3 separate regions of the Homo sapiens genome follow, and all the other regions are linked to region 1. The links come from fine-mapping of genetic effects on gene expression. A gene starts in region 1. Each other region holds a variant in brackets. All regions are shown on one strand. Distances are from middle to middle. Region 1 holds the start of ACY3 (aminoacylase 3). Region 2 has its middle 14 kb from the start of ALDH3B2. Region 3 holds the start of ALDH3B2 (aldehyde dehydrogenase 3 family member B2).

Region 1 (8,342 bases):
GTCAGGCAACTATCATAAAAGTAAGAACCTTTAAGGCCGGATGCTGTGGCTCACGCCTGTAATCCCAGCACTTTAGGAGGCCGAGGTGGGCAGATCACGAGGTCAGGAGATCAAGACCATCCTGGCTAACACAGTGAAACCCCATCTCTACTAAAAAAAAAAAAAAAATACAAAAAATTAGCCGGGCGTGGTGGCAGGCGCCTGTAGTCCCAGCTACTCGGGAGGCTGAGGAAGGAGAATGGCGTGAACCCGGGAGGCAGAGCTTGCAGTGAGCCGAGATCACGCCACTGCACTCCAGCCTGGGCGACAGAGCGAGACTCCGTCTCAAAAAAAAAAAAAAAAAAGTAAGAACCTTTAAGTTACATTTCAGAAGGCACACCATTCCCATCAAACCAACAATTTTAGACTAGTTCCATTCACCAAAAGATTACTGTCATGTGAACTTGAAAAGCACTTGGTCTTATTTGCTTAGTTTATGAGTACTCATTTCTTTATAAGCCAATTCGGTACCATAGCCAAATATAACCGGACGTGTACATACTACCAGATACAAATAACGATCCTATAGCTTTAACTTTTAAAGGTTTAGCCATGGGTCAGGTAAAATTCACTACTTAAAAGACAGTTCCAACTCTGTCTCCGTCCAACTAACAATTTTAGCTAAAATTTATCTCTCCCATACAGCAGAAGCCCTTTCCTAAATTTTAGGAAGAACACGGTAGAAAGGAGACAGGCAAAAATTTGGCTCTAGTGTCGGAAAACCCGTGAGTCTCTCCCACAGCAATTGTTACCCGATCTAGGGGTTCCCAGATCATAGAGGAGTCCCCAAGTCCCATCACTTCTGGTCACTATTAGCAAACTGTAGCATCTGGTGGGCTGATTGACGGGGAAGTTTCTTTCCCTACCCACTGGGGACAGTTAGGACACTCTAGTACCCAATGGCCCTCTTGTTTACAATATGCACACTGTTGTGTTCTCAAGGGCGGGAGGCCCTTTGGCCGGGCAGTGGGGTCCCTAGGGATCTTACTTATGGCTGATCATCTCCAGTGAACTGTTTTGTTTTTTTGTTTTTTGTTTTTTTCAAGAAAGAGTTTTGCTCTTGTCGCACAGGCTAGAGTGCAATGGCGCGATATCAGCTTACAACCTTCGCTTCCTGGGTTGAAGCGATTCTCCTGCTTCAGCCTCCCGAGTAGTTGGGATTACAAGTGCCCACCACCATGCCTGGCTAATTTTTTATATTTTTAGTAGAGACAGGGTTAGCCATGTTGGCCACGCTGGTCTTGAACTCCTGACCTCAGGTGATCCTCCCGCCTCAGCCTCCCAAAGTGCTGGGATTACGGACATGAGCCACCACGCCTGGCCGCAGTGAACTGTTTCTTGTGTACTGGCTGGTTGTAGCCAAGAGACTCGATGGCTTCTTGTCTTGTGTTGCCTTTTTGTTTTTTGTTTTTTGTTTTTTTTTTGCCCTTCCTGGACCTGGCCACAGTTGCTCAATACCTTAAGGGTAATCTCAACCAATGGAGATGTCAGCATCCCCAGTGTCCCTTCTGCTTTTTGTAGTTTATCCGCATGGCTTCTGCCACTGGAGTCCTGCTACAATTACTGTTTTCCCATATTACCCACCCAGCAGCTTAGAGGCGGGATTGGTGGTGACACAGATCCCACAACTCTTGGCCCACACTCAACTAGTTTTAAAAATATATTGGTGGGGAGGGGCGGGCATGGTGGCTCATGCCTATAATCACCACGCTTTGGGAGGCCGAGGTGGGTGGATCACTTGAGCTTAGGAGTTCGAGACCAACCTAGGTAAGATGGTGAAACCCTGTCTCTATAATATTAGGTTGGTTCAAAAGTAACCGCTGTTTTTGCCATTGAAAGTAATGGCAAAAACTGCAATTACTTTTGTACCAATCTAATTTTTTAAAAATTAATTAATTAAAAAAAATTGGAAGGCATAGATTTCACTCGGCAAGGCAGGAAATCTTGTAACTGCTCTATACTGTGGCTCTGCCGACCGCCCGGCACTGCTCCAGCAGATGCAAACTGCCCGAGATTTTGATGAATTCACTGAAGGAAATAAAGACATTGTGTTTAAAAACACAGCAGAAAGGTTGGGTGTGGTGGCTTATGCCTGTAATCTCAGCACTTTAGGAGGCTGAAGGGGGTGGATCACTTGAGCTCAGGAGTTTGAGACCAGACTGGACAACATAGCAAGACCCCATCTCAAAAAAAAAATTAGCTGGGTGCGTGCCTGTAGTTTCAGCTACTTGGGAGGCTGAGATGGGAGGACTGCTTGAACCTGGAAGTTGGAGGTTGCAGTGAGCCACAGTCGAGCCACTGCACTCCAGCCTGGGTGACAGAGCCGGACCTTGTCTCAAAATTAAAAAAAAAAAAAACCCACTGCAGAAGACCTTCAGAATTGCTTGCCTCTAGAAACCATGCTTTCCTCAGAACATCTAACCCTTCAAAAACTACAGCAGCAGCCAGAACCCACCATTCACGCTGACGCATTCCTTTGTGATAAAGACTTCATTGATTCATTATGTGACAAAGGGAAAATGAGCAGAAACTACTGGGTGGTTCACACCAAACAGAACCTTTAGACCGATTGCTCGTTCCTTCTCCCTCATGGAATTGAAGTTCATTTATCTTCATGCACTCCCTGATCAATCAGGAAAGGCTGTGGCTGACGTCAGCTCCAGGCTCAGCACAGTCTTTATGGGGTGATCTTATAGCTTAGCAGTGCAACCCTGTGGAGTAGAACTGAACGGAGACTTTTGCCAGTTGCAGGAAATGGTCATTAAAAAATACCAGTTTATTCACAGAATAAAGGTGCTTCATGCAGACATCTGTCCCCAGGGTTTCTTCTGCAAAATGCTGATGCTGCTATCATGAATAATGTCTTCAAATATTCTCTTAATGAGGCAGAACAAGCCGGAGCTGGGAATACATTTGTCATAATGTAAGGAAGCAGATCATCATCAGTGACAGTGCCAAGTCTTGAAGATTCTCTCCTGGGTCTTCAGACTAATACACATTTATCTCCCTGGGTTGAAGAAGTACTGTGGGACTATGATGTATACCCACAAAAGGATATTGACAAAGAAGCTCTTTATTTATTTATTTATTTATTTATTTATTTATTTATTTATTTATTTTCTTTTGAGACAAGGTCTCACTGTGTTGTCTAGCCTGGAATGCAGCCATACGATAACGGCTCACTGTACTCACGGTACGATTACCTCCAACTCCCCGTGCTCAAGTGATTCTCCCGCCTCAGCCTCCTGAGTAGCTGGGGCCACAGCTGTGTGTGCCACCACCTGGCTAATTTTTTTTTTTTTTTTTTTTTGAGACAGAGTTTCGCTCTTGTCGCCCAGGCTGTAGTGCAATGGCATGATCTCGGCTCACTGCAACCTCTGCCTCATGCCTCAGCCTCCCAAGTAGCTGGGATTACAGGCACCCACCACCATGCCTGGATAAATTTTGTATTTTTAGTACAGACGGGGTTTTGCCATGTTGCCCAGGCTGGTCTTACACTCCTGACATCAGGTGATCCACTCGCCTCAGCCTCCCAAAGTGCTGGGATTATAGGTGTGAGCCACCGCGCCCACCCTAATTTTTTTTTTTTTTTTGGTAGAGACAGGGTCTCCCTATGTTGCCCAGGCTGGTCTTGAACACCTAGGCTCAAGCAATCTGCCCCCCTTGGCCTCCCAAAGTGTTGGGGTTACAGGTGTGAGCCACTGCACCCAGCTGACAAAGAAGCTCTTGAACAAATTCATTTAATGAGATTCTCTAGCACTAAAATAGTCCTACCTCATTGTAATGTTTTGTAGAGTATCTTATAAAACAATGAAAAAAAACCAGTATTTTAATACATATTTTTCTGTATATTTCCTTCTAGCCTTTGTACATATGATCACATATTTGTAAAAAGTTGTATGTATATATATACAACTTTACCCGCTTTGTGTGATGATATGACAAAAACATTTATCTGAAAAAAGTATTTTTTTCATCAAATGGCAGAGCTCCTGTTTCTGGTAACCCGGGGTATGGCAAGTAGGGGCTCTGGGAGATGGAGCAGCTCAGCCTCCTGTGAAAAATTCTGTTTCTCTAAAAAAGAACAAATTCTCATGCTGGGCGCGGTGGCTCACGCCTGTAATCTCAGCACTTTGGGAGGCCGAGGCGGGCGGATCACGAGGTCAAGAGATCGAGACCATCCTGGCTAACACGGTGAAACCCCGTCTCTACTAAAAATGCAAAAAATTAGCCGGGCGTGGTGGCGGGCGCCTGTGGTCCCAGCTACTCAGGAAGCTGAGGCAGGAGAATGGCGTGAACCCGGGAGGTGGAGCTTGCAGTGAGCCGAGATCGCGCCACTGCACCCCAGCTTGGGTGACAGAGCCAGACTCTGTCTCAAAAAAAAAAAAACGAATTCCCAAAACTAGTCCCACTGTTGTCTACCCAGATCCGGGATCCGGGTTGCCCTTGGCCTGGCCAGAGATGCCTCTCAATCCCCCACGGCACGTAGAGCCAGACAGAAACCGAAAGCAGAGGTGCCCTGCGCTGAAGTCTAGAGATCCCACTGCTAGGTCCAAAGAATTTACCCTTTCAGTCAACCCACGGGGCAAAGTCCACTTTCTTCCCTGAAGGAGCAGCACAGAACAAAAGCTCCAGGCAGCTGCTTCCGCTGTTTCGGGGGTAGGGCGGAGTGACAGCCCCACGGGCCACGCAGCAAGCAGAAGATCCCCGGGAGTCACCCTCAACCCTCTGGGGCCACGTGGGTGAGTTCGCCCGGGGAAGGTGCCGCGGCCCACTGCTTTACCTTAGTGAGCCTCAAGAAGTTAGGATCAGAATCCCAGTCGGCCCCATCTGGGTCGCCAGAGTTTTGTTACCCACACAACGGGTGGGCTCAGTTGCTTGGCGGGTGTTAACTAAAGAGGATTTAATAGGGGATTTTATTTCTTGCAACAAGTAAGGAGAACACCTAGACAGCTCCCAAAGCAGTGTCTCCCCGAGCTGAGGGCTGGGGCAGGTTTTATAAGCATAGGGTAATGAGGCGTGATCTGATTGCATCTTGCAATGAGGTGATGCTGGGAGGCATGATCTAATTGGATGCTGACACAGGGGGGAACCACAGCTCTGACCCCTCTCTGGGTCTCAGTTTCCCCAACTGCAGTGAGGAAATTGGCCCCCGTGATGATGCCCATGACATCACCATCCTCTGCCCTCACTCATGCTGGGGTCTCCATGTGCCCATTTTCAAGCTTGTGCCCGCCCTTTGTTCCTCACTCCCCACAGCTGCCCTTGGCCAGGACTTTCACAGGGTGGAGCCAAGGCCCAGAGAGGGCACTGAATCTCTCCAGGTCACACAGCCTGTCAGGGAGGTGGGGCCAGAGCCAGGTCACACGTGTGCACACAACACACACACACGCACACATGCTCACGCACATGCACGCACACACGCTCTCAAGCACATGCACACATGCACACACATGCACACACACTCTCATGCACACACGCACACATGTACACACACATGCATGCACACATGCACACAATACTCTCATGCACATGCACACACGTACACACGCACACATGCATGCTGTCACACATGCGCACACACGCACACATGCTCTCATGCACACACGCACACATGTACACATACATGCACACATGCACACAATACTCATGCACATGCACACACATGTACACACGCACGCACACACGCATGCTGTCACGTACACATGTGAGTGCACACACGCACACACATGCTCTCATGCACACGCACACATGTACAGATGCACACATGCATGCACACACATGCACACACGCGCACACACTGCCAGGACTGGGGGCTGCTGTTTCTGAGGGTTCCTGGACCCCGTTCTGTTCCATAAACACTCACTGAAATGCAGAAGCTGGACCCCAGCCAAGGGAAGTGAAACTTTCCAGCACCCCTACTGCTGTTCTCCCTAAACTTGGGGGCCCAGCACCTTGTGGCAGGAAGCACCCTGGCCCCCAGCAGCCCCCAAAATAGCTAGGTCTGCCACGGAGGCCCTTCCTTCCTGAGAGGTACCACACCGAGTCAGCAGGATCCCAGCCTCTGTGGGGGTTGGGGGGGCCTTCCAACAAAGACCATGGCCTGGGACTCATAAAGCAGCATGGGGGTCCCTGAGACCCCTACCCCAAGCAAGGAAGGAACAGACCCAGGCCGACAGGCTCCTCTGCTGACTCCCTCTCCCACCACCTGCCAAGGACTCAGTCAAGTCACCCAACCCCTAGAGCTTCAGTCCACACCTGCAAAATGGAGCCGGTGACAGCTGCCCCCAGGGCTGGGCCGGATACAGGAGTTGATGGCATGGCATGGCCCCCTAATGGCAGTCTCTGCCCTCCCTTTGCTGAGGCTCCAGGTGCCAGGAGGAGTGGCCCCTGGAGGGGGCTCATAGGGAGCCCCGGCCCACTGGGGGCTCAGCCTCACACTCCATCCACCCCTCTTGACACCCTGTCAAGATCCCAGCTGCCCTGATGGGAGCCAGGATGACAAATCCCCTGTCCCCACAATCGCCATGCTCTGAGCTCACGAAGCCTTGGGTGTGGAGGGCAGGAGAGCCCAGGCCACACAGAGCTGAGTGTGATCTGGGGCAGCTTCCGAGAGGGTGTAACTTAGAGGGTCCTGGCCACCCAGAGCCCCCCAGGCTGGTGGGCCTGGCATCTGGAGCAGGGCTGGACTGGCCCGGGGAGACCCAGTGTGGTGGTAAAGAAGGCCCAGGATCGATGCCTGGGGGAGGCTCCAGCTCAGGGTCCCAGCACCTGGCATCCAGCAGGCCCTGGCGGAGCAGCTTGCCTCACTCCCCAGTGACTTCGGAACTGGCCTCAGCTCCTCCCAGCAGACAGCTGAGCCTGGTGGGAGGTAGAGGCCCCAGGGCTGAGTGCAGGGGACCTCACCTTCATCCTTCCCCACTTTGCTCTTGAGAGGCAGCAGGAGGGGATGGAGCCACATTGGACGCACTGAGTGCCACCTACAGCCCGCCTCTAGGGCTCTGTGCGCCACCTGCAGCCCGCCTCTAGGGCTCTGTGTGCCGCTGAACAGTCTGCCCCTAGGGTTCTGTGGGCCACCTGCAGCCTGCCTCTAGGGCTTGTGTGCCTGCAGACAATTTTCTGAGCCTCAGTTTTCACATCTATAAAATGAGCCTGAGGGTTGTTCCCAAAACAGGGCAAACCGAGTCATCTGAGTTACACTGTCCTTGAAAATGACTGAAATCCCGGATCAAACATTTTAAAATTTTGCTTAAAGCAACAAAGAGCTGTAAAACTGGGGCTCCACATGGCACCTTTGGGTAAGGGCGACTCAGGAGTGACCACAGCCCTCTCCGGGCTGCAAGGACAGAGGCATGTTGCCGAGGTGGTGAAGGAGGGGCAGCTTGTCATCTTGGTGGCCATCAAGGTGACACCTCTATAGTAACTTTCAATAGCCTGCTCTGGTGGTGACCAAAACCAAGTCACCACCCCACTGCGGGTGTACCTCTTAGTAGTGTTAAGGAAGGTGGCCCCTCTGGGGCCCAGCAGAAGGACGAAGGGCAGGGGCAGGAACTTGCCCGCAGGACCTGGACTCGTTGGGCCGTGGCAGCACAAGTAGCAGCGTGGGGCGGGCGGGGCAGGAGCAGTGGAGCAGACCCCAGCACTCCGACCTTTGGCTGCATGAACCTCAGCCCGTCCCACCCACCCCCTGCTGTCTGCCAGCTTGCCACAAAACTTCCCATCTGTGGATCTCCAGGCCCATGAATACCAGCCTGTCTGCGAGTTAGACGCCAGTCCTGGTGGCCCGGGAAGCCCAGATCCGCATCAGCGGTAAGTACCCCCTGACCTGAGACCCCTGCACCAGCTGGGAGGAGCAAGCAGGAGGGGCAGGAAGGCGAGGCTGTTGCCTAGAACCCAGACACTCCACAGCTAACTCTGGTGACACTTTCCACTCCCCACGCTGTGCCTCAGTTTCCCTGTCTATAAAAAGGAGCGCAGTCCTCTTCCTATAGGGAGTGTGCCTTGGTGAACCCATCTTCCTGAACAGTTGGGCCCCTCTTCTCAATTTAGGAAAAAGAAACTTCTTTTCTCCAAAGGAGCAGGAAAATTGTCTCCTCAGAGAAAGGGCCACTGGGGGTGCAGGTGGGACACAGCTGAGACACTCCCAGCTGTCCACACCTCTTGACAGGTGGCTGCCCTGTGGAGCCTCCCACCGCCATCCTTGCCCTGAGCCCAGATCCCTTGCATCGGGGCCAGGGTCTCCTAAGTATGCCCACCCCCAGGTTCTGCACCCCACACCAGCATGTGCTCACTGCCTGTGCCCC
Region 2 (8,342 bases), 38 kb before region 1:
AGGCCCACGCCACCACACCCAGCTAATTTTTTGTATTTTTAGTAGAGACGGGGTTTCACGTGTTAGCCAGGACGGTCTGGATCTCCTGACCTCGTGATCTGCCCGCCTCGGCCTCCCAAAGTGCTGGGATTACAGGTGTGAGCCATCGCGCCCGGCCAGGTCAGTATTTTAGAAAAAAATGTCAAAGTAAGTGTCATAGGAGCTGTGGATGTGAAAATAAAGAGGAGAAGCAAAGAAGCTTTGGGCTTGGTAGGGAGGAAGGAAAAGACAGATGTTACAGATGCGGGAGACCAGGTCGTTTTAAAAGGGAATGTCCCAAGTTAGAAAAGGCAGAAAAAGCTCCCCCACTTGTGACCACTTTTAAAGAAGAATAGGGGGGTCAGGGGCTCTGACTTTTCTATTTTGAGTCCCACCAAGAGCCCTTGATAAATTTAGAGGTGGGACCCAGACATAAATTAATCACCTTTTTAGTCGACTCAGGAGAAGCCCATTCACCTGTCTGTTTTCCTTCAGCTCATTTAGTTTGTTCCCCAAAGGAATTAACAGTTTCTGGGGTTAAAGGGGAAGGATTCAAGGCAAAAGTTTTAGAAAATACAGAAGTTAAATATATAAATTGATTAGTTTATATACAATTTTTATTAATTCCTAAAGCAAAAGCCAATTTGTTAGAAAGAGATTTAACGTTAAAGTTAGGTATAGGTTTACAAGTTAGTCCAAAAGGTTTCCTAACCTCTTTAAATTTGTTAGCTATAGCAGATAAAAAATACATTCATCCAGCTGTCTGGTCAAGGGAAGGTAATCAGGGAAATTTACAGATTCCTCCAACACATGTTCAGTTAAAGACTCCAGGGGAAATAGTAAAAAGAAAGCAATACCCTATTCCTTTAGAAGGAAGAATAGGGTTAAAGCCTGTAATCAAAAGACTTATTAAAGATGGGCTATTGAACCTTCTATGTCTCCATACAATACTCCAATGTTACCAGTCAAAAAAATCAGATGAATCATACCAATTAGTGCAAAATCTTAGAGCTATCAATCAAATAGTTCAAACCACTCATCCTGTTGGGCCTAACCCCTACACTATTCTTAGTAAAATTCCATATAGTCATCAGTGGTTCACAGTAATAGACTTAAAAGATACATTTTAGGCATGTCCTTTGGCTAAAGACAGCCAAAATATATTTGCCTTTGAGTGGGAGGACCCCTATTTAGGCAAAAGCAACAATACAGGTGGACAGTTTTTACCCCAAGGATTTACAGATTTTCCCAATCTTTTTTGTCAAGTATTTAAAAAAAATTATTGTCCCAAAACAGTTATGCTTTCTTCAATATGTAGATAATATTCTTACATCTAAGGAAGAGATAGAAAAGGTAGCTGGACTTTCTACAAAAGTTCTTAACCACCTACAAGATAAAGGGTTATGGGTTTCAAAAGAAAAGCTTCAATATGTAGAACCTAAAGTTAAATATCTAGGCCATTTAATAAGTGCAGATAAAAGAAAAATAAGACCCCCCAAAATTGAGAAAATCATGTCTCTACCCTTGCCCCGAACCAAACAAGAACTTAAAAAATTCCTGGGATTAGTTGGGTACTGTCGTTTATGGATGGACTCATATGCATTAAAAAGTAAGCTCTTATATAAGAAATTAACTAAAGAGGAAACGCATCCCCTTATATGGACTTCTAAAGAAGTTAATCAAGTGGAGAAATTAAAAGAAAGACTCATCACTGCTCCCATCCTAGCCTTACCCTCTTCAGAAAATCATGTCATCTTTTTGTGAATGTAGACAATAGAGTAGGGTGGTCACTAAAGAACATGGAGGCGGTCAACAACCAGTAGCCTTTCTATCAAAAGCATTAGATCCAGTTGCCAGTAGATGGCCTCCGTGTATTCAGTCTCTAGCAGCCACAGCAATACTAGTTGAAGAAAGTAAGAAATTAACTTTTGAAGGGTACCTAACAGTGAGCACCCCTCACCAAGTTAAGGTGATCCTAAACCAAAAAGCTGGGAGATGGCTTACTGATTCTAGAATCTTAAAATATGAGGCTATTCTATTAAAAAAAAAGATGATTTAACAGATAATTCCTGAAATCCAGCAAGCTTCTTAACAGGAAACCTACTGCTCAAAAAAAGAACATTTGTGGTTAGATTTAATTGACTATCATACAAAAGTTAGGCCAGATTTAGTAGAGACCCCTTTTAAAACAGAGCGACATCTATTTATAGATGTCTCCTCCCGGGTAATTGAAGGGACATGACATAATGGATATGCTATAATTATAGGAAGATCTTAAAAGAAGTAAAATCAGGAAGATTATCAAATAGTTAGTCTGCCCAACCTTGCGAGTTATTCACAGTCACGCCCTAAAATATTTACAGAACCAGGTAAAAACCATCTATACTGACTCTAAATATGCCTTTGGGGTATCTCATACATTTGGGAAAATTGGGGCTAAGCAAGGACTAATTAACAGTAAAGGTAAAGAACTTCCTCGTGAAACACTAATTGTTCATGTTTTTAATAATCTTCAGTTACCTGAAGAAATAGCCATTGTCCATGTTCCAGGACACCAACCTAACTTTTCTTTTAAAAGTCGAGGAAACAATCTTGCAGACCAAATAGCAAAGCAGGCTGCTGTTTCTGAGACGTGCATTTTTCATTTAACCCCTTGTCTCCCTTCTCCTATTGTAGTTCCTATTTTCTCTCAAGACGAAAAAGTTAGAAAAGATTAGAGCTCAAAAAAAATTCAAAAGGAAGATGGATACTTCCAGATCAAAGAGAAATGTTATCCAAGCATCTTATAAGAGAAATTTTGTCCCAACTACATCAGGGAAGTAATTAGGATCCCCAAGCTATGTGTGATGCAGTTCTGTTTATGGATGCATTAAAGTTTATACTTTAGCCAAACAAGTTACAGTTATTTAATTTGCAAAAAAAAAAAAAAAAAAAAAAAACACAAATAAACAAGCCTTAAAAAAAGTTACCCCTTAGAGGAAAAAATCCAGGACGATGGCCATTTCAAAGTGTTCCAATTAACTATAGTAAAATGCCCCCAATTGGTGGCCTAAAATATTTATTAGTAATAGTAGATCATTTTACCCACTGGGTAAAAGCCATTGTTTTTTCAAGTGTAACTGCCAGTAATGCAGTCAAAGCCTTAATTAAACATATTGTACCTAGGTTTAG[C/A]TTAATAAAAAATATTAATTCACACAATGAAACCCATTTTACTGCACGTGTTATTATCTAGTACTGCCCTAAGTACTAGACATAAAGTGGGAATATCACATTCCTTGGCATCCATCCTCTTCGGGAGGAGTAAAAAGGATAAATCAAACTCTTAAAAATCATGTAACTAAATCAGTCCTAATGACTTGCTTGCCATGAACTAAACGTCTTCCTATTGCTTTATTAAAAATTAAAACTGCCCCTAGGAAAGATGTTGGATTGTCCCCTTATAAAATGTATAGATTACCCTACTTACATTCTTCTGCTGATGTCCCTATGTTTTTATTGTTATTTGTGGGAGGAGGGATTTGAACCCCGTGGCTATTTGATCTCTAGCTTTGAATTTATTTGGTATACCTTGTGGAATGCTAGTTCCATCTAAATAAACATGGGGGTCAAAGGACCCAAGACTGGCTTCTCTTGTTTTACGATGTCGTGTTTTTTGTTGTTGTTGTTGTTTTTCTGGTTGATGAATTGCCAGGGTAAAAGGGATAGCCAGTTCAACTAGAGTACAAGTAAGGTCCAATTATTTGGCAGAGTGTCCAGCAAAGGCCCTCCACAATACCACTATACCTCTGCTTGGGGATGAGTAAGGGCTGACTGATGGGTCAGCTCTTGGAAGTGCCTGACCTTACCGCATCCTGTTAAGTTTCTAAGAAACACTAAATTTTCCCCTTGTCTTGAGAGCCACGAAGCAAAAGTGGTGTCAGAAGATGGAGGCTGGATGGCCCTTGGGGGCTTTTTCAACACTCCAACACTCCAACACTCTAGAACACTGTGTGCCCATAAGCAATCACTCCCCATTCCCCACACCTCCATCCCCTGGCAACTGCCAATCTGCTTTCTACCTCCGGGGATTTGCCCATGCTGGCCATTTCATACAAATAGGACCGTACAGTATGTGCCTGGCTTCTTTCACTTAGCACAGTGTTCTCCAGGTTAAGCCAGGTTGCAGCATGTGTCCATACTTCATCCTTTTTTCAAACATAGACTTCGTTTTTCAGAGCAGTTTTGGGTTCACAGTCAAACTCCATTTGTTTTGTTTTGTTTTGAGATGGAGTCTCGCTCTGTCACCCAGACTGGAGTGCAGTGGTGTGATCTCAGCTCCCTGCAACCTCTGCCTCCCAGGTTCAAGTGATTCTCCTGCCTCAGCCTCCCAAGTAGCTGGAACTATAGGCATGTGCCACCACACCCGGCTAATTTTTGTATTTTTAGTAGAGACAGGGTTTCACCATGTTGGTCAGGCTGGTCTCAAACTCCTGACCTCAGGTGATCCACCTGCCTTGGCCTCTCAAAGTGCTGGGATTACAGGTGTGAGCCACCGTGCTCCACCTCCATTTGTTTTTATGGCTAATATTGCGTTGTCTGGATGGGCCACATTTTGTTTATCTGTGATGGACCCTTGGATTGTTTTCACATTTGGGCCATTGTGAATGGCACTGCTGTAAACATTTGTGTACAAGTATTTGTTTGAATGCTTATTTTCAATTCTTTTGGGTATATACCTGGGAACACAATTGCTAGGTCACATGGCAATTCAATGTTTAACTTTTGAGGAGCCACCGCGCTGTTTTCCATAGCAGGCACACGATTCCCCATCTCCACCAGCAGCGTCTGAGGATTCCAATTGCTCCACATCCTTGCCAACACTTAGAAAAAATCAGAGCCCTCACAAATACTGTATTAGTCAGTTCAGGCTGCTGTACTAAAATACTACAGACTAGGTGGCTTAAACAGAAATTTATTTTTCATAGTCTGAAGGCTGGGAAGTCCAAGATCAAGGTGCTGACTGATTTGGTTCCTGGTGAGGGCCCTCCTCCTGGCTTTCCAAAGGCTGCCTTCTTGCTGTCTCCTTATATGGTACAGAGAGAGAGAGAGAGAGTGAGTGAGAGAGAGAGAGAGAGACAGAGAGATATCTGGTGTCTCTTCCTTTTCTTTCTTTTTTTTTTTTTTTTTTTTCTGAGACAGAGTCTCACTCTGTTGCCCAGGCTGGAGTGCAGGGGCCCGATCTCGGCTCACAGCAACCTCTACCTCCTGGGTTCAAGGGATTCTCCTGCCTCAGCCTCCCAAGTAGCTAGGATTACAGGCACCCACCACCATGCCTGGCTAATTTTTGTATTTTTAGTAGAGATAGGGTTTCACTATGTTGGCCAAGCTGGTCTCAAACACCCGACCTCAGGTGATCTGCCCGCCTTGGCCTCCCAAAGTGCTGGGATTACAGGTGTGAGCCACCGCACCTGGTCTCTTCCTTTTCTTATAAGGAAGAAAACTCCATCCGGGACCCCACCTTCAGGACCTCATCTCAACCTGATTACCTCCCTAAGGTCCAACCTCTTAATACCATCATATTGGGGGTTAGGGTTGCAACATGGGAATTTAAAGGAGATAAAAACATTCAGTCTATAGCACTACCTAACAGCATGTCCTCAAAATATAGAAATAAAACATGGACAGAATTAGGAGGAAAATTTGCCCAATCCACGCTTCCTTCAGAAACAAATAGGTCAAACTGGCAAAATAGTAATATGATAAAAGATTTGAACAACAGAATTAGCAAAATTGAGCTAATGGAAATACATACATACATATATATATATATATATATATATATATATATATATATATATATATGTGGCAGAAGGAGGCATGTGCTTTTGAGCACACATGAAACAGTCATAAAATTGATCACATACCATGCACCAAAGCAAGTCTTAAGAAATTTCAGGCCAGGCACAGTGGCTTATGCCTATAATCCCTGCACATTGAGAGGCTGAGTCACGTGGATCACCTGAGATCAGGAGTTTGAGACCAGCCTGGCCAACATGGTGAAACCCCATCTCTACTAAAAATACAAAACTTAGCCAGACGTGGTGGCACGTGCCTGTAGTTCTAGCTACTCGGGAGGCTGAGGCAGGAGAATCACTTGAACCCGGGAGGCAGAGGTTGAAGTGACCTGAGATCATGCCACTGCACTCCAGCCTGGGCGAGAGAGTGAGACTCTGTCTCAAAAAAGATAAAAAATAAAAAAAGGAAATTTCAAGAATCTGGCTATATATATGAGATTCTTTGACTATAAGGTAATCAAGTTAAAATGGATAATAAAACAATATCAGCAGCCATACATTTGAAAGGCAAAAAATATGCTGCTACATAATGTATAGATTAACTAAGAAATTATAAAGGAAATTAGCAAATGTTAATATTAAACAATAATGAAAATATCAAAAACTTGTGGAGTGGAGTGATATGATGCCTAGAGGAAAATATATCTCTCTAAATATTTATATAAGAAAATCAGTTCGAGACTAGCCTGACCAGTATTAGAAAACAGGAAAGATAATAAATGGCCTCCTGAAAGAATCATTAAATATTATGGGCCAGCTACCTGGGCGCATGGGGTAACATACCCCCATCTATATGCTCAACCACATCATAAGGTTGCAGGCAGTCCTAGAAATTACAAAGAAATTATAACCAATGAAACGTCAAGGGCACTAGATTTACTAGCAATACAAGCAACACAAATGAGAAATGCTATATATCAAAATAGATTGGCTTTAGGTTACCTCTTAGTCTCAGAAGGAGGAGTATGTGGAAAATTTAGTTTAACCAACCTTTGCCTAGAAATCGATAATAATGGCCGAGCTGTCATGGAAATCACAGCTGAAATGCGCAAGCTGGCCCATGTTCAAGTTCAGACATGGTCCGGGTGGTCCCCGGATTCCTTGTTTGGAGGATGGTTCTCAACTTTTGGAAAATTCAAAACCCTCATTGGTGGGTTCTTACTTATTCTTGGCATCTGCCTCATCCTCTCTTGCCTTTTACCGCTGCTTATTAAGAGTATTCAGTCAACTATAGAGGCAATAGTAACCTGACTCACTACCGTGCAGTTGATGGCATTAACCAAATATCAGCCACTGCCAGTAGAAGAAGCAGCTCAGCTCCACGAAGAGGTGGCAAATAGTGGTGCTTTCTATTAACACCTTTGTTATAAAAAGCACCAAAGATGGGAAAATGAAACAGGAATTAAAAGAAATTAAAGAACGTGTAAGCAAAAACTCAGTTACATATAAGAAAACACAGTTCCCCCTGAGAAAGAGAAAGAGCTGGAGTCCTTTAAAAATTAACTGCCTGTTTTTCTGTGGCTAGGGAGCCTCATCTCTTCCCCTTTCCCAGGCATTGTGAAGACCGTTTCTCTAGCTGTGCAGCTGCAAGGTCACTAGACAGATAAACTCAAGTTGTAAAACATGTTTTTCCTTGAAAAGTAAGAAATGATATAATGCATGTCTCAATTAATTAAATAACTGTCTTTTTTTCTCACTTCTGTAATATGCTTCCCCCTGCACAGATCTACCTTAAAAGGTAACTTAACTCTTTGTTCAGGGCTCAGTCCTTTGGATATTAATCTGACTGGGCCAGTACACCTAAATAATAAATATCCTTCTCAACCCCGTTGGTCTCTCTGATTCCTTATCAATCCCGCTACAGTATGGTGAAATCACGCCTCTACTAAAAATACAAAAATTAGCTGGGCATGGTGGAACACATCTGTAATCCCAGCTACTTGGGAGGCTGAGGCAGGAGAATCACTTGAACCTGGGAGGCGGAGGTTGCAGTGAGCCAAGATTGTGCCACTGCATTCCAGCCTGGGTGATAGAGTGAAACTCCGTCTCAAAAAAAAAAAAATTAGCCAGGCATGGTGCTGTGTGCCTGTAATCCCAGCTACTTGGGAGGCTGAGACCAGAGAATTGCCTGAATCTGGGAGGTGGAGGTTGCAGTGAGCTGAGATCATGCCACTGCACTCCCGCCTGGGTGACAAAGCAAGACTGTCTCAAAAAAAAAAAAAAAAAAAAAAGAGAGAGAGAAAAAGAAAAAGAAAAATTACAGGCTCATGCCTGTAATTCCAGCACTTCAGGAGGCCAAGGCAGGCAGATCACCTGAGGTCAGGAATTCGAGACCAGCCTGGCCAACATGATGAAACCCTGCCTCTACGGAAAATACAAAAATTATCCTGCCATGGTGGCAGGTACCTGTAATCCCAGCTACTTGGGAGGCTGTGGCAGGAGAATCGCTTGAATCTGGGAGGCTGAGGTTGCAGTGAACTGAGACTGTGC
Region 3 (8,342 bases), 23 kb before region 1:
TATATATACACCATAGTGTGTGTGTATATATATATCATAGTGTATATATATATATATGTACCATAGTATATATATACACAGTACTGTGTGTGTGTATATATATATCATAGTTTCTTTGGTCATGAAATCCTTGCCTAAGCCAATGTCTAGAAGGGTTTTTCCAATGTCATCTCCTAGAATTTGTATAGTTTCAGCTCTTGGGTTTAAGTCCTTAATCCATCCTGAGTTGATTTTTGTGTAAGGTGAGAGATGAGGATCCAGTTGCATTCTCCTACATGTGGCTAGCCAATTATCCCAGGACCATTTGTTGAAAAGGGTGTCCTTTCCCCACTTTATGTTTTTGTTTATTTGTTGAAGATCAGCTGCCTGTAAGTATTTGGGTTTATTTCTGGGTTCTCTATTCTGTTCCATTGGTCTGTGTGCCTAGTTTTACACCGATATGTCACTGTTTTGGTGACTATGGCCTTAGAGTATAGTTTGAAATCAGGTAGGTAGTATGATGCCTCCAGATTTGTTCTTTTGGCTTAGTCTTGCTTTTGCTGTGCGGGCTCTTTTTTGGTTCCATATGAAGTTTAGAATTGTTTTTTCTAACTCTGTGAAGAAAGATGGTGGTGTTTTGATGGAGATTGTGTTGAATTTGTAGATTGCTTTTGGCAGTATGGCCATCTTCACAATACTGATTCTACCCATCCATGAGCATGGGATGTGTTTCCATTTGTTTGTGTCATCTATGATTTCTTTTAGCAGTGTTTTGTAGTTTTCCTTTAGAGGTCTTTCGACTTCTTTTTTAGGTATATTCTAAAGTTGTTTTGTTTTGTTTTTTTGTTTGTTTTTTTGCTATCGTCAAAGGGATTGAATTCTTGATTTGATTCTCTGCTTGGTCGCTGTTGGTGGATAGAAGAGCTACTGATTTGTGTACATTAATTTTGTATCCAGAAACTTTGCTGAATTCTTTTATCAGTTTTAGGATCTTTCTGGAGGAGTCCTCAGGGTTTTCAAGGTAAACAATTATATCATCAGCAAACAGGGACAGTTTGACTTCCTCTTTATCGATTCAGATGCCCCTATTTCTTTTTCTCATCTGATTGCTCTGGCTAGGACTGCCAGTAATATGTTGAAGAGGAGTGGTGAGAGTGGGCATCCTTGTCTTGTTCCGGTTCTCTGCGGGAAGCCTTTCAACTTTTTCCCGTTCAGTATTATGTTGGCTGTGGTTTTGTCATAGATGGCTTTTATTACATTAAGATATGTCCCTTGTATACTGATTTTGCTGAGGGTTTTAATCATAAAAGGATGCTGGATTTTGTCAAATGCTTTTTCTGCATCTATTGAGATGATCATGTGATTTTCATTTTTAATTCTGGTTATGTGATGCATCACATTTATTGACCCTCCTACGTTAAACCACCCCTGCATCTCTGGTATGAAACCCACTTGATCATGGAGGATTATCTTTTTGATATGGTGTTGAATTCGGTTAGCTAGTATATTGTTAAGGATTTTAGCATCTATGTTCATCAAGGATATCAGTCTGTCATTTCCTTTTTTGGTTGTGTCCTTTCCCGGTTTTGGTATTAGGATGATGCTGGCTTCATAGAATGAATTAGGGAGGGCTCCTTCTTTCTCTATCTTGTGGAATAGTGTCAAAAGGATTGGTACCAATTCTTCTTTGACTGTCTGGTAAAATTCTGCTGTGAATCCTTCTGGTCCTGGACTTTTTTTTTGTTGGTAATTTTAAAATTACCACTTCCATCCCGCTGCTTGTTATTGGCCTGTTCAGGGTATCTAATTCTTCCTGATTTAAACTAGGGGGGTTGTATTTTTCCAGGAATGTAACCATTGCTTCTAGGTTTTCTAGTTTATGTGTGTAAAGGTGTTCACCATAGCCTTGAATGCTCTTTTATATTTCAGTGGTGTCAGTTGTAATATCTCCTGTTTCATTTCTCAGTGAGTTTATTAGGATTTTCTCTCTTCTTTTCTTGGTTAATCTTGCAAATGATCTATCAATTTTATTTATCTTTTCAAAGAACAAGTTTTTGTTTCATTTACCTTTTGTATATTTTTTCTGTTTCAATTTCATTTAGTTCTGCTCTAATCTTGGTTATTTCCTTTCTTCTGCTTGGTTTGGGTTTGGATTGTTCTCGTTCCTCTGTTCCTTGAGGTGTGATCTTAGATTGTCTGTGCTCTTTCAGACTTTTTGATGTAGGCATTTAGGGCTATGAACTTTCCTCTTAGCACAGCCTTAGCTGTATCCCAGAGGTTTTGATAGGTTGTGTCACTGTTGTCATTCAGTTTGAAGAATTTTTTAATTTCCATCTTGATTTTGTTTTTGACCCAATGCTCATTCAAGAGCAGGTTATTTAATTTCCAGTTATTTGCATGGTTTTGAAGGTTCTTTTTGGAGTTGATTTCCAGTTTTATTCCACCGTGGTCTAAGAACATGCCTGATATAATTTCATTTTTCTCTTGTTGCCCAGGCTGGAGTGCAATGGTGTGCTCTCAGCTCACTGCAACCTCTGCTTCCTAGGTTCCAGCAATTCTCCTGCCTCAGCCTCCCGAGTAGCTGGGATTACAGGCACATGCCACCACGCCTGGCTAATTTTTTGTATTTTTAGTAGAGACAGGGTTTCACCATGTTGGCCAGGCTGTTCTGGAACTCCTAACCTCAAGTGATCCACCAGCTTCGGCCTCCCAAAGTGCTGGGATTACAGGCATGAGCCACCGCACCCGACCTATTTTACATTTTAACAATTGCTACTGAGGTTGAGCATATTTTAATTTATTTACGTCTATTCAGGCTTCTTGTCAGTTCAGTTTAACAAAACAAAACAAAACAGCTTATTGAGATAGCATTCACATCCCATACAACTCACCCATTTACAGTGTACAATTCAGTGGTTTGGAGGCAGTGGGCCTCCCCAGTGGCCATAACCCATCTGCTGCTCTTAGATGGGCCTTAGCATTCTGCCCTGTATTCCCTTCCCCATCCCGAGGTCCCTTCCTGGTGTCACATTGGCATTTACATCTTTAGCTACCGAAGATTCCAGGGCCAGGGCTTGGTCTCAGGCTGTGGCCTCCGCTGGGCTGTCTCCAGTCACAACCAAGGGTTATCTCAGATGTCCCTCCTGCCCACAGGGCTGCACACTCTGCCAAGAGACTCTCTACAGCCCTCAGCAGGGCGTGTCCTTGGTCTCAGGCTTGGGGGAAGGTGGGGTGGGGACAGAGTCAGGCCATCCATGAAGGACAGTGGCAGGACCTGAGCTCATTCTGCTCCCTGGAACCTAGAAGGTGCTCAGCAAATACTTGTGGAAACATTAGCGGGCAACATTGAGGGGCACTGATTTTGTGCCAGGAGCTGTGATCTGCCTTTTCCATTCTCACGTCTCCCTCTGTGACCCTCTCAAGAACCATGGCAATTAGGTGTTATTGTTACTTCCGAAAGGCTCAGAGACGTTAAGTAACCTACCCACGGTTGCACAGTAAATAAATAAACCAATGAACAATGCGCCATCCTAGAGCTACAGGTGCCGTCGCCCATCAAGGGTCTCTCTGCAAAGATCTGAGCCCCTTCCTCTGCCCTGAGTATGCCAGCTGGGCACACTGAGAGTGGAAATAGAGCCACAGTTGCTCATCTTGACCTGTGAAGCCTGAAGAGTGAGGACAGGAGAGGAGGGAGATGAAGATTTAGCATAGAGACCCTAGGAGGGGCCATGGGGGGCATGGGACCACTGTGGCTGGGGCCTGGGAGGACTTCCTGGCGAAGGCAGCATTTGCCACCAGGATCCTGCTGATATTTTCATCCTGTGACCTTCCCCTGGGGTTCTTTTTTCCTGATCAGGTAACTCCCTGCTAGCCCATTCCAGGAAACACAGAGCAAAGCCTCAGACAGCCTTGACTTGTCTAACCTGTTCCCAAGCCGGCTGTGCAGTGTGGTCCCTGGGGGCAGGGCCCTGGAAGAACAGGGCAGACACCGAGCAGCTATAGGTCCTGGCAGTGAGACAAGGGTAGGCATGGGAATTGGGAGGTGCAGCCCTGCCCCACGCCTGTTGGGTAACACTGAGCATCACCCCATTGATTACCCCATTGCCAGGCGTGGGCACGGGAGTTGGTTTGGGAGCTGCCAGTCTCCTGGGAGGATCGCAGTCAGCAGAGCAGGGCTGAGGCCTGGGGGTAGGAGCAGAGCCTGCGCATCTGGAGGCAGCATGTCCAAGAAAGGGAGTGGAGGTGCAGCGAAGGACCCAGGGGCAGAGCCCACGCTGGGTTATGTGGGGCCACAGGGGTGAGGGGCGGGCAGAGGGAGCTCAGGGTAAAGGACACTGGTGGGAACCAGGGGCATGGAGGGAAGGGGATGTGTGCCCATGGCCCGTGGGTCAGGGGGCAAGCCCACCAAGGGGCCTATGGCTGCAGGGGCCATGGGTACGGGGCTTGCTCAGGAGAGGGAGGTGGGTGCTGGTGTCTTCTGAGCCTCACTTTGCCCTTTGGCAGGCTCCTGGGAAGCAGCCACAGAAATGAAGCCTGTTCCCCAGGAGCCCCAGGGATGGGGACAGACCCCGTCCTCCCTTTGAGGAGCTCCCAGGTTAGAGGAGAAGGCAGCTCTGTGGACAGACAAGGATT[G/C]GGTCGGGGGCACCAGGGCTGTGATCAGGAGGTGCCGGAGAATCGGGGATTGGAAGCAGAGAGATTCTTGGCAGTTGAAGCGAAAGTCGGATCTTTGGTTTCAGATGTTAAAAGCAACATGCATTGCTTGTTTCTGGTTCTAGAAATACTACATTCGCATTTAGAAAGTCTGGAAGCTGCAGGAAGATGTTGAGAAGACAGTGAAAGGCACGAGGCACACATTGGCACATGGTGTCACAAGGCTGGTGTGAGGAGAGGGGCTGGGGGGCCTCCCTCCTCGCACTGAGGCTGTGAGGAGGGCAAATCAAGTCGTCTCTGGGAGCCTCGGTTTCCCTGTCCTTCCAACTGGGTAATAATAATAGCTGTGAGGCTCAGATGAGATGTGCATGCCAGCTACCTGGCCCCAGATGCCAGCTCTGACTTCTTTCTGGGCCCTGCACCAGGCATGGCCACTGCCAAGGGAATGAGTCCCCTCTCCATATGACAGGTCCCATCAGGCCTCCACCTTCCTGTGTGTCTTATTTCTCAGCATCTGCCCCCACAGGGCTTTTGCACACGTTGGTCCCTCTGTCCAGATCACCTGCCCTCCAAGAGGCCCTCCCCTACGGCTTCCCCGCAGCAGTCAGAGCCAGGGGTGGGTCTCTGGCCACCTCTGGAAGAAGCCCTGGCCCACCGATCATGTTTGTAATGATATTGTTTCCGGTGTCATTGTTCCGTGTGTAGACTGTGAGCTCCATGGGGGCTGGCCAAGTCTGGGGTGGTCACCTATGGGACCCAGGTCCAGTCAGGAACTGCCTGGTGAGCAGCCAGAGGTCCCCAGTGTAAACCCAGAAAATCTGAGACGGGTCTCAGTTAATTTATAAAGTTTATTTTGCCTGTAATCCCAGCACTTTGGGAGGCCGAGGCGGGCGGATCACGATGTCAGGAGATCGAGACCATCCTGGCTAGCACGGTGAAACCCCGTCTCTACTAAAAACACAAAAAATAAGCTGGGTGTGGTGGCGGGCACCTGTAGTCCCAGCTACTCGGGAGGCTGAGGCAGGAGAATGACGTGAACCCGGGAGGCGGAGTTTGCAGTGAGCTGAGATCGCACCACTGCACTCCAGCCTGGGCAACAGAGTGAGACTCCGTCTCAAAAAAAAAAAAAAAGAAAAGAAAAGAAAAGAAAAGAAAGAAAGAAAGTTCATTTTGTGGCCAGGCGTGGTGACTCATGCCTGTAATCCCAGCACTTTAGGAGGCTGAGGCAGGTGCATCACTTGAGGACAGGAGTTTGAAACCAGCCTGGCCAACATGGTGAAATCCTGTCCCTACTAAAAATTATAAAAATTAGCTGGGCATGGGGGCGCATGCCTATAATACCAGCTACTCGGGAGGCTGAGGCAGGAGAATCATTTGAACCTGGGAGGCAGAGGTTGCAGTGAGCCGAGATCATGCCAGTTGCACTCCAGCCTGGGTGACAGAATGAGACTCCATCTTAAAAAAAAAAAAAAGTTAATTTTGCCAAGGTTGAGGACGTGCACCTGTGACACAGCCTGGGGATGTCCTGACAGCATGTGCCCAAGGTGGTCGGGACACAGCTTGGTTTACACACTTTAGGGAGACAGGAGACAGCAATCAATATATGTAAGAAGGCCAGGCACGGTGGCTCACGCCTGTAATCCTAGCACTTTGGGAGGCCAAGGCAGGGATCACCTGAGGTCGGGAGTTTGAGACCAGCCTGACCAACATGGTGAAACCCCGTCTCTACTACAAATATAAAATTAGCCGGGCATGGTGGCAGGCACCTATAATCCCAGCTATTCAGCTATTCGGGAGGCTGAGGCAGGAGAATCGCTTGAATCCGGGAGATGGAGATTGCAGTGAGCTGAGATCCCACCACTGCACTCTGGCCTGGGCAACAAGAGAGAAAGTCTGTCTCAAAAAAAAAAAAAAAATACATATATATATACACACACACACACACACACACACACACACACAAAATACATACATACATATATATATATATATATATATATATATATATATATATATATATATGAAGTACATCGGTTCCATCCAGAAAGGCAGGGACAGCTTGAAGCAGGGGGTGGGGGTGAGGGTTGGGGCAGCTTCCAGGTCACAGGTAGGTGAGAGACTGCATTCTTTTGAGTTTCTGATGAGCCTTTCCAAAGGAGGCAATCAGAATGTGCATCTATCTCGGTGGGCAGAGGGGTGGCTGTGAATAAAATGAGAGGCAGGGGCCCGCACGGTGGCTCATGCCTGTAATCCCAGCACTTTGGGAGGCCAAGGTGGGCGGATCACCTGCGGTCAGGAGTTCAAGACCAGCCTCAACATGGAGAAACCCCATCTCTACTAAAAATACAAAATTATTTGGGCGTGGTGGTGCATGCCTGTAATCCCAGCTACTCGGGAGGTTGAGGCAGAAGAATTACTTGAACCTGGGAGGCAGAGGTTGCGGTGAGCTGAGATCGCAGCATTGCACTCCAGCCTGGGCAACAAGAGCGAAACTCCGTTCCAAAAAAAAAAAAAAAGGGGGGGGAGGCAGGTTGGCCCTGATCAGTTTCCAGCTTGAATTTTCCTTTTAGCTTACTGATTTTGGGGGTCCAAGATATTTTCCTTTCACACCAGTCAGCCCTGCCCCAGCAAGCGCCCGGACCCCTGCCCTGCAGCAGGTGGGCGAGACAAGAAAGCACCTTGCATGAGAGGCAGGGCTTGGGTCCAGCTCCAGCCCCCATCTGTTTCCTCATCCGTCAGGCAGATGCTGCTGGCTCCGTGATTATTTCACCGAGCACCAGATGTGCACATGTGAGGACAGGCGACGACTGCCCAGAAAGGGCAGGGGTTCCTCTGCCCCACCTGCCTCACCTGGGAAAGCTGTGACCACGCTGAGGCCAGGTTCCTGGGATGAACATCAGGACACCTGTGTGCCATAGCTCATCCCAGACTCCTCCAATCCGGGTCTTGATTCAGGCCGGAGGCGGTCATCCCTCCAAAGGCACCAGGGAGCCATGGAAGAGGTTAGAGCTGAGCTGATGTGGCCAGGAGCTGCTTGAGCGCCGGGTGGAGGCTGCTGACGCTCGCATGCCAGGCAAAGCTTTGGGTCAGGGCCCTGGAACCTGGGACCTGGAAGCGCTCCAGGCCAATACCGCCCGCTACCAGAGAAGGGCCCAGGCCCCACCCAGGTTCTAGCCCAAGGGCTTGAGCAAAGACAGTAGATGAATATTTGCAGAGCCCTGTATGCTGCGTCCTCCTCCAGGCCCTCATGCAGGGGGGCCGCACACTGAGTGTGGGGGTCCTGTGCCAGGAATGTGATCACGCTGCCCAGGGGAGGGAGGCGGCATCTGCAGGTGTGGCCAGGAAGGTGCCCAGCATGGCTTCCTGTCTCCTCACATTCTTCAGCTGGGACCTGAGCCGGGCAGGGGCTGCTCTCCTCATCTTGTCATTCACAAGACACGGACTTCTGCCATTGGTTCAGCTGGCTCTGTCCATGGGCGAGCACTGTCCCTGCATCACATATGACAAGAATGCCTGGTGCGGTGCAAGTGCAGATGGGGCCACTGGCCTCCAGGACACTCACTGGGGATGCCAAGGCCCTGCTCACCACCCACCCCCACTGCCCTCAGCAATGCGGGTCTGAGGCAGCAGCCCTGGGCACGGCCCTGTGACCTGCAGCTGAGGGCTGAGATTACTCAAGTCCACACGCAGACACACACACGACACACATGGAC

What was found.
Region 2: its variant is fine-mapped to the expression of ACY3 in spleen (GTEx, PIP 0.92).
Region 3: its variant is fine-mapped to the expression of ACY3 in whole blood (TOPMed, PIP above 0.99).

Annotation. Positions count from the first base shown.
Region 1 is chr11:67,647,022-67,655,363 of GRCh38, reverse strand. ACY3 (aminoacylase 3) reads left to right here and starts at 4,634. Exons shown (of 8, transcript NM_080658.2): 1 at 4,634-4,781; 2 at 7,775-7,848; 3 at 8,301-8,342. The coding sequence starts at 8,321. RefSeq lists enhancers at 4,353-4,412, 4,483-4,562, 6,293-6,712, 6,240-6,762, 7,173-7,252.
Region 2 is chr11:67,684,881-67,693,222 of GRCh38, reverse strand. No RefSeq gene overlaps it. Among named protein-coding and RNA genes, the nearest start is that of ALDH3B2, 14 kb to the right of the region's middle. The variant C/A (reference allele first, on the strand shown) is at 3,190.
Region 3 is chr11:67,670,352-67,678,693 of GRCh38, reverse strand. ALDH3B2 (aldehyde dehydrogenase 3 family member B2) reads left to right here and starts at 4,071. Exons shown (of 10, transcript NM_001393402.2): 1 at 4,071-4,258. The variant G/C (reference allele first, on the strand shown) is at 4,612.